2 separate regions of the Homo sapiens genome follow, and region 2 is linked to region 1. The links come from fine-mapping of genetic effects on gene expression. A gene starts in region 1. The other region holds a variant in brackets. All regions are shown on one strand. Distances are between the middles of the regions. Region 1 holds the start of VASH1 (vasohibin 1). Region 2 overlaps LOC105370577 (a long non-coding RNA gene).

Region 1 (8,330 bases):
CATACTGAACTTCTGGCTACCATTGCAGAAATTTCTTTTCTTTTTTTTTTTGAGATGGAGTCTCACCCTATCACCTAGGCTGTGGTGCAGTGATGCAATCTCGGCTCACTGCAACCCCTGCCACTTGAGTTCAAGCAATTCTCCTGCCTCAGCCTCCCCAGTAGCTGGGATTACAGGTGCTTGCCACTGCGCCCAGCTATTTTTTTGTAGTTTTTAGTACAGACAGGATTTTGCCATATTGGCCAGGCTGGTCTTGAACTCCTGACCTCGTGATTCACCCCCCTCAGCCTCCCAAAGTGCTGGGATTACAGGCATGAGCCACTGCGCCTGGCCCATTGCAGAAATTTCTATTGGACAGTTCTGCTCTGTGATTCTTTCTTGGGATTAAACTCCTTTTCTTTTCTTCTTTTACCTCATAAATTATGAACATGAAAACAGCAAAAAGTTGAGTCAGAACATCTACCTTTTATAAACACATCTATACCTGTGTGCCTCCATGCCCCTCTTTTACTAACAGCACCCCATTTACCTTTAGGGCAGTCCTTCTCCCCCAACCACCTGTAGTCTTGGCTAATGAAATTGCCCCATCCTCCTCTAGCCAAGGATCCAAGCTAAGTCAACAGACTCTTCTCTCTGGAAATTTCACTCTAGCTTCTGTGTCACAAGAATAGAAAATGTGTCAGAGCAGATTAATATGAGTGTTGATGCCCTAAGACAACATGCGTTCATTTGCAGACCATTAGTCCAGAGTGTGACGATAACAAATGTGACACATGATATGAGTTAGGCGTCATTATCGTCATCCTTGTCATCATGAAAGTGACTTGTACCCAGCAGCTCAGATGTGCCTGCTCCTGTACTAGGTATGTAATTTGCCTAGCTTCTCTTATGCATCCTTTCTTCATCTGTAAAATGGAAATCATACTCATCCTAACTCTTCCACGGTTTTTGTGAAGACAGCAAAAGGAATAATTGTCATGAGGGCCGGGCGCGGTGGCTCACGCCTGTAAGCCCAGCAATTTGGGAGGCCGAAGCAGACAGATCACTTGAGGTCAGGAGTTGGAGACCAGCCTGGCCAACATGGTGAAACCCCATCTCTACTAAAAATACAAAAATTAGACAGACATGGTGGCAGGCACCTATAATTCCAGCTACTCAGGAAACTGAGGCAGAGAATCACTTGAACCTGGGAGGCAGAGGCTGCAGTGAGCAGAGATCGAGCCACTGCACTCCAGCCTGGGTGACAGACCGAGACTCTGTCTCAGGGGAAAAAAAAAAAAAAGAAAAAAAAGAAAAATAACGGTCACGAAAGCTTTGAGCCAAATAAGGAGTTACCCAAGTGTCTGTTGGAGGAGTTGTTCCCAAGGCATAGGTGTGGGGAGTCATGGGAGGGCTTGATGAAGGACCCAGGATCTGAGACCAATTCAAAAGTTGTGCCATACCAGGTTAAGTCACTTGTTCTCTCTGGGCTTTTGGCTTAGATAAGACTGGGTTATACACATCTCTTTCCAGTTTCACCATTTTCTAATCTATTTGCAAGCCCCCTTGCCTGACACATACCCTCTTCCACTTCTATGCACACATGCCAGAAAATTCTCTAGCCTAGTCCATGCTGACCTTGTACCCAACTCATTTCTTCTTTTCCCAGCTCCTCACCTGATTGGGAAGTTGCTCTGGGTATGCACTCCCACAGCTTCCTGAATAACCCTCTGGCAGAGCACCTTATGGAAATCATGCTTAACTATCTCCTCCACTAGTAGGCCATAAGTCCAACTAGAGCAAAGGCCATGTCCCTCTTGTTCACTACTGCTTCTCCAGTGCCCAGTACAGAGTCAAACACATAGAAGATGTTCTATGAGTACTTACTCTTTGAATGAATACCCTACATCTATTTTATTTGTCATTTCAGAAAACACATGGTATTATCTCATGCTGCGTAACAAGTTAGTCCAAAACTTAGCAGCTTAAAACGAGAATAGTCACTTATCCTCTCTCAATTTCTGTGGGACAGAAAGTCAGACAGGGCACAGCAGGGCTGGTTGTTCTCTGCTCCATGTCTGGGACCTCAACTCTAAGACTTAAAGGCCGAGGGCTGGCAAGACCTGAAGTCTCGGTTTGCCATGATCTGGTGATTGACTCTGGCTGTTGGCTGAGAGCCCAGCAGCAGCTGTCAGCGAGAACACCCTCATGTGGCCTCACCATGTGGCTTGGGCTTCTTCACAACATGGTAGCTGGTTTCTTCTGAGGAACCAAGAAGAAGCTGTCTCCTTTTTATGGCCTGGTCTTAAGAGTCATACAGCTTCACTTTCATCACACTTTATTCATTAGACACCAGTCACCAAGTACATCCCACATTCAGGGGGAAAGGAATTAGATCCCATCTTTTGAAAAGAATGGTCAAGAGCTTGCAAGCCAATTTTAAAACCAGCACCACTTGGCTAACACAAGAAGCAATGTATAGAGTGAAAAACAAGTGTCTGAAGAAGTAAGACTTCTGTTCACATTCTAGCTCTGCCACTTACTAGCTGTGTGAGTTTGGGGAAATTACCCTCTGAGACTTGGTTTATACAATACAGGGTGATAGTTGTTGATCCCTAGTGATTTTTCTACGCTTGGAGTCTTCTTGCCTTAGTGAGTTTAAGAAGATCCAGGCTGAACTAACTTTCTTGGAGTCTTGCAATCCTTCCCATCACTGATAACCCTTGGTTTCTGACCCTGGAGGTAGTAAGAGGTTGCTACGGGAGCACAGGGTACCCAGAAAGTTCAGATACTAGGGACAGCTTTAGAGAACAGATGTGAAACCACTGAGGCCCTGGGGTCTCTCTAAGGCCTTTAACCCAGCCCTTGTGTAGTAACCTCAGCTTGTCAAGAAATGCAACGACCCCACAACTAAGGAATCTGAATCTGCCGGCTAAGGCCAAGGAATCTGCATTCTCCCACAAGACTGTGATTCATGCTAACTACAGGCAGGGGAGAGGGGGAGCATCTTAAAGCACACACTCGGCCGTCTCTTCCTAAAGTTCTTGGCTTCAGCCTAGAGATAGTGCCTTTCCCACCATTTACAACTCTATGGCATGAGGGAGGCGGAGGGTGCGTCCAGTGTCCAACCACGCACCACAGCTGGTTGTACTTTCACCTTCCTCTAGGCCAGCGGACCCTCCCCAAGCATTGCCTCCCACGCCCACGTCGCGGTCCCACCCTGGTCCGCGGGGTCCAGAGCGTCCAAAGCCCGGTCTAGGCAGATGGTCTAGGGGTGAGCTCTGCGCACCCCATTCCCACCAGTGCAGGCAATCGAATAAAACAGGGTGACTTTTAACCCTTTTCGTTTCCAGAGATAGTGACCCCCCGTCTCAATCCCTAGATGTCCTCCTCTAAGAACTGTGCGCGCTGGGAGGGACTCTGCGCTCACTCACTGTGACCACCTCGGCTGGGATATGGGGAAACTGAGGCCTACAGAGGGAAGGGAACTGCTGAACGTCCCAAAGCAACACAGGCACTGAATCCGGTCTAGAATCCCAGTCTTCCAGGCCAGTGCTCTCGGTCCTACCGGCTCAGGGCCCCTGCGAAGAATCTTTTTCAAGAAATTCCCGACCGCAGGAATTCCTTCTGCGCTAGGAATCTCCATGGAGTTTGCGCTCCCTCTGGCACGTTGAAAACGTCCTCCGCAGCTTCGCACCGGCTTCGCGGCGCCCTGACAGCTGGGTGAGGAGGGAGCGAATGCCCACCGGCGTCCTTGGGGTAACTTGGGACAGAGGCACCGCCGCGGGGGGCGGAGGACTGGGCGCGAAGGCGCTGGCCCTTTAAGGGGGGGACGGAGCGCATGCGCGGCGCGGGCCGTAGTCGAGCCTGGTGGGCGGCTGGCTGGCAGGGGACGTGGTCGGCGGCAGCGGGGCCCAGGGGCGGCGGGGCTGCAGCAGCGGCGGCCCCAGCTTCGCCGAGCAGCGATCGGCTGGTGGGCTTCTCGTTGGCGGGCTCCGCGTTGGCGGGCTGCTCCCCAGGCACCAGCGCAGCGCGCGCTCGCCCGGCTTCGTCACTCGCCTCCAGCTACATCCGCCGGCCGAGGCTGCGCGAGCCTCCGGGCTTGCGGTCCCCGCCCCGCGGTCCTTCCTCCACCCTCAGCCAGGGCAGCTGCAGCCCGAGCGAACAGCCACGGAGCATCCTCCGCCCGCCCGGGCCGCGCCACCGCCCATGCTGCAGCCAGTCCCAGGCAGCGACCCCGCGGCCGCAGCCCGCCGCTCAGTGACCTCAGCCTGGCCCCTGCGCGCCGCCCGAGCCGGTCCCGCTGAGCCGCGGGCCCCGTGCCCTGCGATGGCTCGGCTGGTGCAGCGCGGCGCCAGGTGCCAGCCGTCCTCCCGCTGAGACGCGCCCGAGTGGGGACCCGCTGGGCCTCGGGGCTCGCAGCCTTCGCCTCCCCGCCGCGCCCGCTCCCTTTCTGGGGACTCCGCCGCTGTTTCTGGGGACGAGGGGACAGGGGACCCAGACAAAGCCCACTTTGTGCAGGGAGTTGGCCGCAGGCGGGGAATGTGCGCGTCGGCGCGCGCCCCCTCCCCGCTCCCGGCCAGCTGCGAGTCTTGGCTCCCGGACTTGTCTCGTCGCGTCGGAGAAATCGCCCCCCAGCGCCGCTCTCCCGCCCGGGGGTCTTGGTTCCGAGCTCGCGCGGCCGGGAGTCGCCTCGGTCTTCCTTGGGGCGCGCGCAGATGTGAGCGTGCGAGAGTTGTGTAGGGGATTTTGTTCCCTCCGAAACTGAGACCCAGGGCGCCCAGTGGGCACCCGTGCCTTGACTCTGTCCTTTCTGCAGCCGCTGGTCCGAGCTGTCTGGCCTCAGTTTCCCTCCGACTTTTCTCCGCTCTGCCAGCCCTCACTGCTGCCCGTCATTGTTCTCGCAGTTAGATGGGGGTGCTTTGTGACGGCTGCCAAGTTGGGGTGTGTTCTCTTTATTCCGTTTTTCAAACAGAACAAGGCCTCCAAGGCTGACCCCAGACAACCCACCCCCTCGGACCCTAATTCACCTTATTGCACTGATTTTTTTTATCAAGTCGTATTTTATTGTACAGGAGCCACGCCCTGATTTCTTAAAGGCGCCTTGCACTCTGGCCATGTGTTATCTCTGCAGCCGGTGTGTGGGAGGCCTCTTGTGAGCCAGTTGTTTTCCCGCCTCCACCACCCCCCTCGAAGATTTAGGGATGCCAGGGGGGAAGAAGGTGGCTGGGGGTGGCAGCAGCGGTGCCACTCCAACGTCCGCTGCGGCCACCGCCCCCTCTGGGGTCAGGCGTTTGGAGACCAGCGAAGGAACCTCAGCCCAGAGAGATGAGGAGCCAGAAGAGGAAGGGGAAGAGGACCTGCGAGACGGAGGCGTCCCCTTCTTTGTCAACCGGGGTGGGCTACCTGTGGATGAGGCCACCTGGGAAAGGATGTGGAAACACGTGGCCAAGATCCACCCCGATGGAGAGAAGGTGGCGCAACGGATCCGTGGGGCCACAGACCTGCCCAAGGTGAGACACACGGGTCAGGGGGGTGATAGCACAGTCTAGGTTTTAGTGACCTTGGGGCCAAGAGTGAAGCCACACTCTCCTCCCACGGGGCAGGGGACCACTGGCTCGGTAAGATCTTTAAAATGCAGTGATATCATACCTGTCTAGGAGAACTTTCTCTCACTGCCATTCTAGGAGGGAGGCTCACATACATTGTCTCCAGGAGGCCCTCCCCGCTGTCTTTTAAAATGTCCACGTTTTACAGGAGGGGACAGCAGCAGATGGAACTAACAAACACAGTAGGATGGCTTGACGTCTCATTTGCTTGATGACACTTGCCAAGCCAGAGAACTGTGAGCAGACAAATGTAATGAATGACTAAGGAGATGCAGGGCTTCATATGTTGAGAAAATATTTTCGTGCATTATGTCATTGAATTCTCCCAACAGCCTTGTGACGTAAGTACAGTTTGGATTCCCATTTTACAGATGAGAAAGCTGAAAACTCAAGTAGGAACTCAAGATCCCACAGCCAGTAAGTGGCAGAACTGAGATTCAATTTCAGGTCTTCAGGAGAAGGGCGGGGGGTGGTGGTGGAGGGAAGTGTCCAGGTCCTCTTCTCTGTTGGACAGTAGATTCAAGCACATTAGAAGAGGTCTTATGGAGAAGCATAAAATGAAATAATTTTTCTGTGTTGGCTGTAACTCCTCCTCCATGACAGCTATACTTCAGTTGTGTCACCAACGAAAACAGAGGCTGTATCTCATTCATCTTTGTCTTCCCAAGGCCTCCTGTGTGCCTGGCACAGAACAGGCACTAGTGTGTGTGTTTGCTGAATGAAAGGGTATTTGAGAGTTTCTGTGCTGTACGCTGCTATATGGAAATACATGCCAGATATTAAAAAAAAAAAAAACATGATCAAGACTAGGAGGCACTTTGCCAAATGCAGAGGCCTGAAATCTCCAAAAAAGAGCCCTTTGGACTGAGTTCAGAGCCCAGTGCTTAGCCCTGCCTGCCCAGGTTGGAAGGAAGGGGGCTAGGAAGAATGGAAGTTAGTGTGAATTAGACATGAGGACAAGTGGCCCGTTTTGTTTTTACCAAGTTATTGGTACAGCCATCAGAAAGTGTCTTCTGGGAAAAAGAGAATCAAAGGTTGAAGGTTTAAATACTGCCTAATGTTTCCAGGGGAAACAAAATGTAGATTGATTTGGAATGGCCGCATAAATGTGCTCTGCACTGACTTAATATTTATTTAGCTAATCCCCTAGAGTTGGATGTTGTTTCCAGTTTTATTCCTAAAATGAATACTATGGTGAACATTCTAAAATATAAATTTTGGGGTTCATCTCTGATTATTTCCTTGGGAAAAATTCTGAAAGCGAAAGTATTGCGTCAAAGGATATTGACATTGGTAGGGGTCACCTGCTTATCTATATGGCCTCTTCCACCTATTTGAGATGCAGTTTTCTTATCAATAAGATGAGGTTGATTGTGGGGAAGAAATGAGAGACTGTGTGTTAAAGTATTTAACAAACTGTAAAGCCCCAAACCAGTACCTGGTTATTGGATATCAGTTACCTTTTTTTTTTTTTTTTGAGATGGAGTCTCACTCTTTCCACCAGGCTGGAGTGCAGTGGCATGATCTTGGCTCACTGCAGCCTCCACCTCCCTGGTTCAAGTGATTCTCCTGCCTCAGCCTCCTGAGTATCTGGGATTGTAGGCACCTACCACCACACCTGGCTAATTTTTGTATTTTTGGTAGAGATGGGGTTTCATTTTCAACATTTTGGCCAGGCTGGTCTCAAACTCCAGACCTCAGGTAATCCACCCACCTCAGCCTCCCAAAGTGCTGGGATTACAGGCGTGAACCACCACGCCCGGCCAGACATCCATCACCTTTACTTATGTGCTTTATCAAGCGGCAAGACTGGGTTTTGCTCAGATCATTTGTCCCGATGAGGCCAGAGTCACACCCTGCTCCCACGTGAACAAGTCGGGCAGCTCTCCAGCCATCTTGCTTATGTCTAAATCAGGCCATAAAAGAGTGTGAATGGTTCCCTGCAGAACTGCCACCACTCCTGGGAACTAAAAAAGAAATAGTGAGCTCACTAGTAACTGGTCTGTAATGTCATTCTGTCATCTTCAGTCCTCATGTACAGGAAAGACACGGATGAAGGAAGTCTAGGGGTGGGGGCTGTGTTGTGACAGACCCCTAGACTTCCATCGCTAGGGTAGAAGGAATTTTGTGAGAGGTTTGGAAAAATTTGAACCTCCCCCTCTTCAAACCACAGATCTCAGATAAATCGCATGAGTCTGCATGAGGTCCCTCCTCTACCTGGGCTCTGAGTAGAAAGGTACCCTTAGAGTCTGGGAGTGCAGTGGAGTCCAGGAGGCCTTGGAGAGAAGCAGCGTGGGTTGGGTGCCTGGGTGCCAGGGTGCCAGTGGCAGGGTGGGCTGACCCCGCCCTTACCATCCCTAGGGGCCATGCCACTGGAGCTGGCACAGGGTCATTCCCTACAGCGGCCACACAGTGTGGGGCTCAAGAAGTGTTTTGTTGGGAAAATTGGGAGATTTCTCACATAAAGATCCAGAGTTTTGGCATCTTTTCAGAAAATAAGAAGACTTGGGAACACATGGGAATCTGCAGTCCCACGTGGCAGCTGTCAGCTGGGGCTGGGGAGTGAGTCCTACTCCCCCATCTTGCCACTGTCTCCACCACTCACCTACCAGGCCTGCCTGCCCCGTGTATGTTACTTGCCCGGCCCCTGCATGTGGTTGAGTCTGGGACCCCTGCAGGCTGGTGTCATAAAAGGAGAGCACTCTGGAGTCAAAGCTACCATGTTCAAATCCTTGATCTCCC
Region 2 (8,330 bases), 41 kb before region 1:
ACCTGCTGGACATGGGTTGGTGGCTTTCAAACTTTTGAAAGCAGTGGAAACTTTTGTTTTTCTCAAGAGGAAAGCTTGATGATGGAACTCAATTTGGAGTATCTTTATGTCACTGAGAGGAAGTATAATAAACACTCCACTAATCAGACTGCTGGAGGGAGACGGCTCAGCTCTTTTGTGTCTTAAATCTCCAAGCAGACTATCAGTCCCCATGGATTGGATCACTGCCTGCAAGTATTAACTGCTTAATAAATGTCACGTAGGAAAAAATGTGTGCTTCATTGGGAAACTGTGTATCCTTTAGAGCATACCCTTCCAGGTTATCTGAGTGCGATGCTTTAGGGTCTCTGGGCCATTCATTGCCTTTGAGCTATTTTTCAAATCTGTAAATTGTAGATAACTGATAGCAATGTAAATAATTCCTGTTTGCAGGCATGCAAATACATTCTGTCCCGAGGTGGTTCAATTTACTTCCTATTTTCCAAAGGAAAGCCAGTTTCCTTCTATTTGAAATATGTTTCCTTCTATTCGTAAATATATTTCCTTCTATTCGTAAATACACTTCAACATTGCTTTTCTCCATATAAATTTGTGCCTCTTTTGACTTCTCATTTGAACCGGTTGTCACATCTTACCAGCCTTCATTAATGATGCACTAAATACAATTTTAACATGTCCATTTTATGTTTGTAGGAATGTCATGATTTTAGCTTTCTTTGAAAATTGCCTTAGTTAAAAAGTTTATCAATAAAAATGAACATTTTTTTTTTCCGAGTTCTCCCCTGATGTCCAATAGCATTTATACTCACACACAGTTGACTTTAAAAGTATAATGTTATGGAAATGCCTTTAGGAAAGCAACACATGCTCATTGGGAATAAGAAATGAGAGAAAGAGCCACATGGGATACTAGGAGCTAGGCTCCCTTAGGCATAAAAGGGCAAGTCGGGGAGCAGTTACCCCAACTCAAGAGAGAAGCTATTGAGAAGGCTGGTGATAGGAGCTGAGGGCTGAAACAGGCGGAGGCAACCAACCCAGGGCAACCCAGTGTAATCACACCAGACCAATCTGGTTCAACTCTTTTTTTTTTTGAGACAGAGTCTCGCTCTGTTGCCCAGGCTAGAGTGCAGTGGCGCAATCTTGGCTCACTGCAAGCACCGCCTCCCAGGTTCACACCATTCTCCTGCCTCAGCCTCCTGAGTAGCTGGGACTACAGGCACCTGCCACCACACCTGGCTAATTTTTTTTACTTTTAATAGAGACGGGGTTTCACCGTGTTAGCCAGGATGGTCTCGATCTCCTGACTTCGTGATCTGCTCACCTCGGCCTCCCAAAGAGCTGGGATTACAGGCGTGAGCCACCGTGCCCAGCCCTGGTTCAACTTTTATGTAACAAAGTCGTGAGTTGTTTTTTGGTTGCCATGGATCCCCAAGTTGAAAGTCAAGTAACCTGAACATGCCCAGATGAACCAAGTGTGCAACCACAAGTGGAACCTAAGTGCTGGAAGCCGGGAGCAAGGACTGCTTTCAGAGGTGGACTGCACATGGCAGGATCCAGGATCCAATCAGATTGAGCTCTAGTGTCACCCCGTGGCAGGATCCAGTCAGATCATGCCTCCCCAGCATCACCTCATTGCAAGATCCAATCAGATCATGGTTCATTACCCTTCGCCTATAAAACCTGCCCCAGCCCACCAGCTAGGCGACATAGATTTCAGCCTTGCCTCCTGTCTTGCCAGTCAATTCCCAATAAAGGTTTTCAGTGCCATGGTATTGGCTTGTGTGTGCATCAGGCAGTGAGCCCATTGCTTGCTGGGTAATACCAGCAGAAAGAGAACAGAAATGAATATTCCAGCCTCACTCTGCTCCCTGCCTTCATGGGCCAAATCCAGCTGGACCAAGAGGGAAAGGGAGTACACATGTTCATAGGCGTCAGCCTTCTTGGTGGAGGGGACATCACAGTCATTCAAACAGCGAACCAAGACAGCTTGGGATGAGAATCAAACCACTCATAGCTCACTGTCTATATTAACATGACTTTACTATTCCACTGTCCTCATCAAAGTAACTTCACTATTATTCCAGAAAATGCTTGCCCAGGAAGATAAAAGCTGTAAATAACTCTACTGTTCATCCCAGGAACTTCCTGAAGGACACACCATGTCTTCAACAGGAAGCATCAGTTTATAGGTTCAATAGGAAGACAGTTTATACCCCAAGGTTCTTTGAACGCCTCAGCCAGAAATCCTCACTTTGCTGTGTCTACCAATCATGATCTTAGCAACCCCCATCAAGCATGCCACCTCTGCACTGAAAGAGCCACCTTAAACCAGGCCTCAAAGTCTCAATAAAAATCACTTTGCCCTCCCACTTTGGGAAGCTACTGAGGCTTTGTGGAGGGGGTACTCTACCTTACCACGGTGAACAATCAACTCAGCCTTGCCTTCTCCGCAGGTTGCTCTGGTGATATTTAGGAGATGGCATTTGACAGAAGGGAAGCATATTTGGAGATGATTGTGTATGTGAGCCTGAATCATCCAGGCAGGTTTCTTCCCTGCTCCAGTTCAGTGGGACGACTGCATAAATATTCTTTCTTTTTCCTATGTGGATACAAAATATTGAGTTTGGGGGCTGGAAGGAATCCCAGCGATGAACTCATCCCTCCCCTCCTTTATGGATTAGGTCAGTAGAACTTACACAGGGAGGTCAGCCAGGGGGCTGGGATCTGAATTCAAGTCCTGCGGCTCTGAGCCAGGTGGCCTGCATTTATTCATTCTCTTGCTGCCATGTTTCTCTTTTCTTTTCTTTTTTTTTTTTTTTTTTTTTTTTTTTGAGATGGAGTTTCACTCTTGTTGCCCAGGCTGGAGTGCAATGGCATGATCTCCGCTCACTGCAACCTCCACCTCCTGGGTTCAAGTGATTCTCTTGCCTCAGCCTCCTGAGTAGCTGAGATTATAAGCATGTGCCACCACACCCAGCTAATTTTGTATTTTTAGTAGAGACAGGGTTTCTCTATGTTGGTCAAGCTGGTCTCGAACTCCTGACCTCAGGTGATCCACCCGTCTCGGCCTCCCAAAGTGCTGGGATTACAGGCATGAGCCACTGTGCCCAGCTTTTTTTTTTTTTTTTTTGGTTTAACAATTGTTTGCTGTGTACCAGGTATTGTGCCAGGTGACGAGCACTCAGAAGTGGGGCCACGTTTTCGAGATTCTTGCCCCGTTTTTCCTTCCGCCCCTTTAAAGCAGATCCTGGGCTCTGTGCTCCTTTACTGAAGAAAGTGGTGGAAGGAAAGAAAGTCGATAGCAGTCTAAGAACTCCCAGCTTCCAATCCCTAAAGTCTAAACATTTGGGAAGAACAGAGGAGATTACAGGTAAGGACCCAAAATGTAGGAAAGGTTTTTCCTGGGCTGGTGTTGGAGGGGAGAGGATGAGAACAGAGAAGGGATGGGTCTCAGGAGGAGCAACCCAAGAGAGAAGGCCTGCGTGGACAGGACTCGACGGGGCATGGAGGGCTCTGTGACATGAAGCGGCAGAGTGACCCCCATACCTCCCCAGAGCCATGTGGACAAGACTGAGGGCCAGCCCAGGAGTGACCTGTGGAACCAATAACCAGCACCAATGCCCTGGCACCATTACGGTCTCGACATCATTAAGACCCTGAAACTCTAAAACAACCAGTGGAGAGCTGGTGCTGCAGACACTCAAAGAGGCAGACGCACAGAGCCAAGGAGGCTCTTGGATTTCGCCCCAAAACTGGGTCAAGGGGACAGAGTCTCCTCCCTCCCATTCCCGACCAGTGCGCTGGGAGTGGCCACACTAGGCATGGAGCAGCCTGTTTGCCAACACACTCTGGTCATAGGAGAAAAAAGAAAATGCCTCCTGAGTTTGGTTTTAAGGAGCTCCTTAACAAAAGGCAGCCCTGAGCAAAGTGATGCTGGGTGAGGGATGCTGCTTTTGCTTTTAAAATAAGCCACAATCTTCCCAGCAAACAAAGAGTGTCTTCTGAGTAACTCAAAGAATGTTTCTTTTCTCCTGGTACAGGGAGGGCATCTTTCAAATGAAAGTCCGTATCTCCTGTTTTCAGGAAGAAACTAGATTAGAATGCCCTTCTTGCATCTGCTGTTTTTCAAGTGCCTTTAGCTCAAAATAATCCTTATGCCAAAGTGGTATGTTTTGGGGTGGCATATCCTGGCACCTTTCAGCAGGAACAGGGGTGCAGAGAGGGGCCATGTGGAGTAAGCCTGTCCCTGAGGGCCAGGAAGCCCAGGCAGCCTCACTTCCTCTCTCTCTCAGCAGCTGATGTGACCCTGGTCTGACCTTGCAGCTGCTCCTCCTGGCTCCCTGCTGGCTGCAGGCCAGGGCTCAGATTCCAGTCTTTTCCACAGCTCTAGAGGACCAGACTTTCAAAGGAGGGAAGGAAGGGAGGAAGGGGAGGGCAGGAAGAGGTCAGAAAAGAGGATGGAGAATTTAGGAGGGGAGAAAGGGAAGTGAGAGGAGCGCAGGAGGCTGGTGGGGAAGGGAAAATCAGACCGGAGGAGAGGAA[G/T]GAAATGAGTAACTAATTCTGAAATTGCGGCACCTGAGGCCTCAGTCCTTTTGGGCCTTAACTCTTGCCCTGGGGCCTATCACAGGGGGCCCAGGAGCACTGTTTGCTGTGACCATCCTGGGCAACATGGCAAAACCCTGTCTCTACTAAAAATACAAAATATATTCGATTCATGAAGCACCTCAAATTTAGATTTGCAAAGACCTCCAAACAAAACACCTGCATTGTAAGAAGACTGCCTGCTAGGCACAGTGGCTCACACCTGTAATCCTAACACTTTGGGAGGCCGAGGTGGGTGGATCATTTGAGGTCAGGAGTTCGAGACCCACCTGGCTAACATGGTGAAACCCTGTCTCTACTAAAAATACAAAAATTAGCCAGGCGGGGTGGCAAGCGCCTGTAGTCCTAGCTACTCGGGAGGCTGAGGAAGGAGAATCACTTGAACCCAGGAGACAGAGGCTGCAGTGAGTGGAGATTGCATCACTGCACTCCGGCCTGAGCAATAGAGTGAGATTCCGTTGCCAAAAAAAAGATTGCTCAACCTTCAATTTTGAACTTGTCCCCATCCTGGGTCACACCAGCTACACTACACTGAGTCAGTATTTTTCATAAATTTAAAGGCCATGGTGTCCAATTTTATTGCAGTGTTTTCTTTGTATTAAGGAATGAATCTGTTAGTGGCAAACATTTAAAATATATTGCCAACTTTATTTAATTAATTTATTTATTTTTGAGATGGAGTTTTTGCTCTGTTGCCCAGGCTGGAGTGCAGTGGCAAGATCTCAGCTCACTGCAACCTCTGACTCCAGGGTTCAAGCGATTCTTCCGCCTCAGCCTCCCGAGTAGCTGGGATTACAGGCGCCTGCCACCCTACCCAGCTAATTTTTGTATTTTTAGTAGAGACGAGGTCTCACCATGTTGGCCAGGCTAGTCTCAAACTCTTGACCTCAGGTGATCCGCCCACCTTGGCCTCCCAAAGTGCTCGATTACAGGTATGAGGCACCGGGCCGGGCCAAACTGCAAACTTTATAATGCTGTTAGGGTTCTTCTCCTGTATTTTTAATTTATAGGGAGCTTGAAAAACGGGTGTGGCCCAAGTCTCTCTCAGTTGCTGAGATGCCCTGACGGCACCTCCCACAGCCCTGGGCCCCCTGTAGGACCAGTCTCCCCTGGAGGACACCCACAAGAACAGGAAAGCCCCACCAAAACGCTAAGGAGGGAGGCAGAATTGGTGACACTGGGTCCCCAGAGATCCCATGGCTGGTGACACCATAAAAACTCGTTTTCTTCCCTGAGAGATGAAGAGGAGTGGGGGCAGGAGATGATCTACATGCCAACTCTGGGAATATGTTCAGTCCTATCACTGGGCCCCATTTTTGTTGGTGGCCAACGCAACAGTCTTTCCCTGACTCCTTCCCATGAGCTTGCCTTTCATCATAGGGGATGAAAGGCCAAAGATACCTTCCCAGCCTCTTCTGCGCTAGAAGTAGCCTAGTCAATAAGATACAAAAAAAATTCTCCTGGGTTGTTTTTAGAAAATCTTTTCCTCTCTGATAAAAACAGAGGGGCAAGTCCAGGCACAGTGGCTCACGCCTGTAATCCTAGTACTTTGGGAGGCCAAGGTGGGCGGATTGCCTGAGCTCAGGAGTTCAAGACCAGCCTGGGCAACATGGCAAAATCCCGTCTGTACTAAAAATACAAAAAATTACCCAGGCGTGGTGGCGCGTGCCTGTAATCCCAGCTACTCAGGAGGTTGAGGCAGGAGAATCGCTTGAACCTGGGAGGCAGAGGTTGCAGTGAGCTGAGATCACACCACTGCACTTCAGCCTGGGCGACAGGGCAAGACTCTGTCTCAAAAAAAAAAAAAAAAAAAAAAAAAGAGGGGCAAGAGGAGAGCTCCTTTGCCCACCTCCTTGTTTCTAGATTGGGTTGGGCGTGCCGAGTGAAGACAATGTGCTGGCGCTCAGGCAGGGCAGGAAGTGTGCTAAAGCCAAAAGGGTGGAAGGACCTCGCTGAGCTGCTGCACGAACCCCTGAACTGTCTACACCCAGGCTTCTTAATTATGGGCGATGATTAAGTGGCTTTTTGATTTAAGCTACTCTTGCACAGGTGTTCCATGATTTGCAGTCAAAAGCATTTCCAACACCCAGAGCTGTGCTAGGACTTGTAGAGGATACAGAGACTTCCAAGATTTGATTTCTTCCTTCTATTCTAGAAGCTTATATTCAAAGTAGGGAAACTAGACATATGTACAGGTGTTCAACATCCTTAAAAATCAAACAACTTGGAGTATAATCAAATTTTAAACTGAAAGTAACAGCAATTTCACTCTTGAGAACTTTTCCCAAGAATGTATGTTCAGAGATATTTGCTGAATTGCAGCATATAGTAGAGAAAATGTGGACATACCCTAAATATTTAGCAATAGGGATTGAAATTACAGCACATACATAAATGGAATACTATGAAGTCAGTAAAGATGGTGATGTTGATATATACTTAATGATGGGAATTCTATAGACAATACTCAGAAAAAAAAACAGGTTATCAACTGTGTACTATATAAATCCACTCATGCACAAAAACATCTGAGTCTGGTATATGTGAAACTGTCAGCAGTGATTATTGGTATACAGTGGAATCATGATGGATTTTTATTTTCCTTACACTTTTCTGTACTTTTTCCACTTGTTGCAATGAACACATATTGCATTTGTAATAGTTGCACTAACAGCATTTAGAAATGCAACTGAATAGTAAGACTATCTGTGCTAATAGAGTACAGTGAAGAGCTTTTAAAAATCTACCAAAATTCACTGTGCATCAACTATTTGCAAAACAACATGGTATATAGGAAGGGGATGGAGAACATGAAAAATAGATCCACAGTCATACACACAGTCCATGGCTTTGAAGGGTGGCAGAATATGCCATCCCCAAAATATGCCACTTGCCTTGATTATTTTGAACTAAAGGCACTTGCAAAAGGGGTGCTCTGACCTCCCCTTTTCTTCCTAAAAACAGGAGATAAATCTCCCATGTGAAAGGTCCCCTCCCTATACCAGGAGGAAAGAAACATTCTTATCATCAGAGATAGGAAGTTGAGACCAAGAGAAATCTGTACATACAGACCTTGTTAAAATAATTCTTACGTTCTTTTAGTCCTCATGTATATTTTAGTTACTCTTCCACAATTGCCTCTCTTTGTTCAACCTAGTATATAAGCACTTAGGTTTTGCCAGTTCTTTAGATCTTCATTTTCCTTTGGGGGATCCCATGTACATGTCAAAACCTGTGTGCTTTTCTCCTGTTCATCTGCCTATGTCATCTTAATTATCAGTCCCAACCAGTAACCCTAAGATGGTTGAGGTAAAGATTTTCTTCCCCTACAGCTTTAAAGAACCAAGTTTCTACCTGGGCAGCTAAGACACAGACAGGTGACATAGTTCCATCCATTCTTAGGAGCTTAGAATATTTGTTACATATCCTAACCTGCCCAATGATATGATAGATATTGAAATAAAACATCGAGTTTTAAGTATTTGGCTTTTATGAAAAAAAATTGGAACAACAGTTTTACATTATAATTTTATATACAGAGTATTTAAGTCAGGCATTGTGAATAGCTTCTGGGAAATGCTTTCAGACCTTGTAAGTTTTGCCTAGGATTGTTTGCAAAGTCTGATTTAACACCCTGTATATAATAGAGAAACCTAATTCACACCCAAACCTTTTGTATTTCTTAGAGTTACAAATGCAGCAAAGCATCTCTTAATTTCTAGAACCTT

Evidence for each region. PIP is the estimated chance that this variant, and not a neighbour inherited with it, causes the effect.
Region 2: its variant is fine-mapped to the expression of VASH1 in whole blood (TOPMed, PIP above 0.99).

The regions. Positions count from the first base shown.
Region 1 is chr14:76,757,639-76,765,968 of GRCh38, forward strand. VASH1 (vasohibin 1) reads left to right here and starts at 3,830. Exons shown (of 7, transcript NM_014909.5): 1 at 3,830-5,492. The coding sequence starts at 5,184. RefSeq lists silencers at 3,797-3,986, 4,087-4,356.
Region 2 is chr14:76,716,176-76,724,505 of GRCh38, forward strand. The region is part of intron 1 of LOC105370577 (a long non-coding RNA gene); the gene reads right to left. Among named protein-coding and RNA genes, the nearest start is that of VASH1, 41 kb to the right of the region's middle. RefSeq lists an enhancer at 4,325-4,484. The variant G/T (reference allele first, on the strand shown) is at 4,543.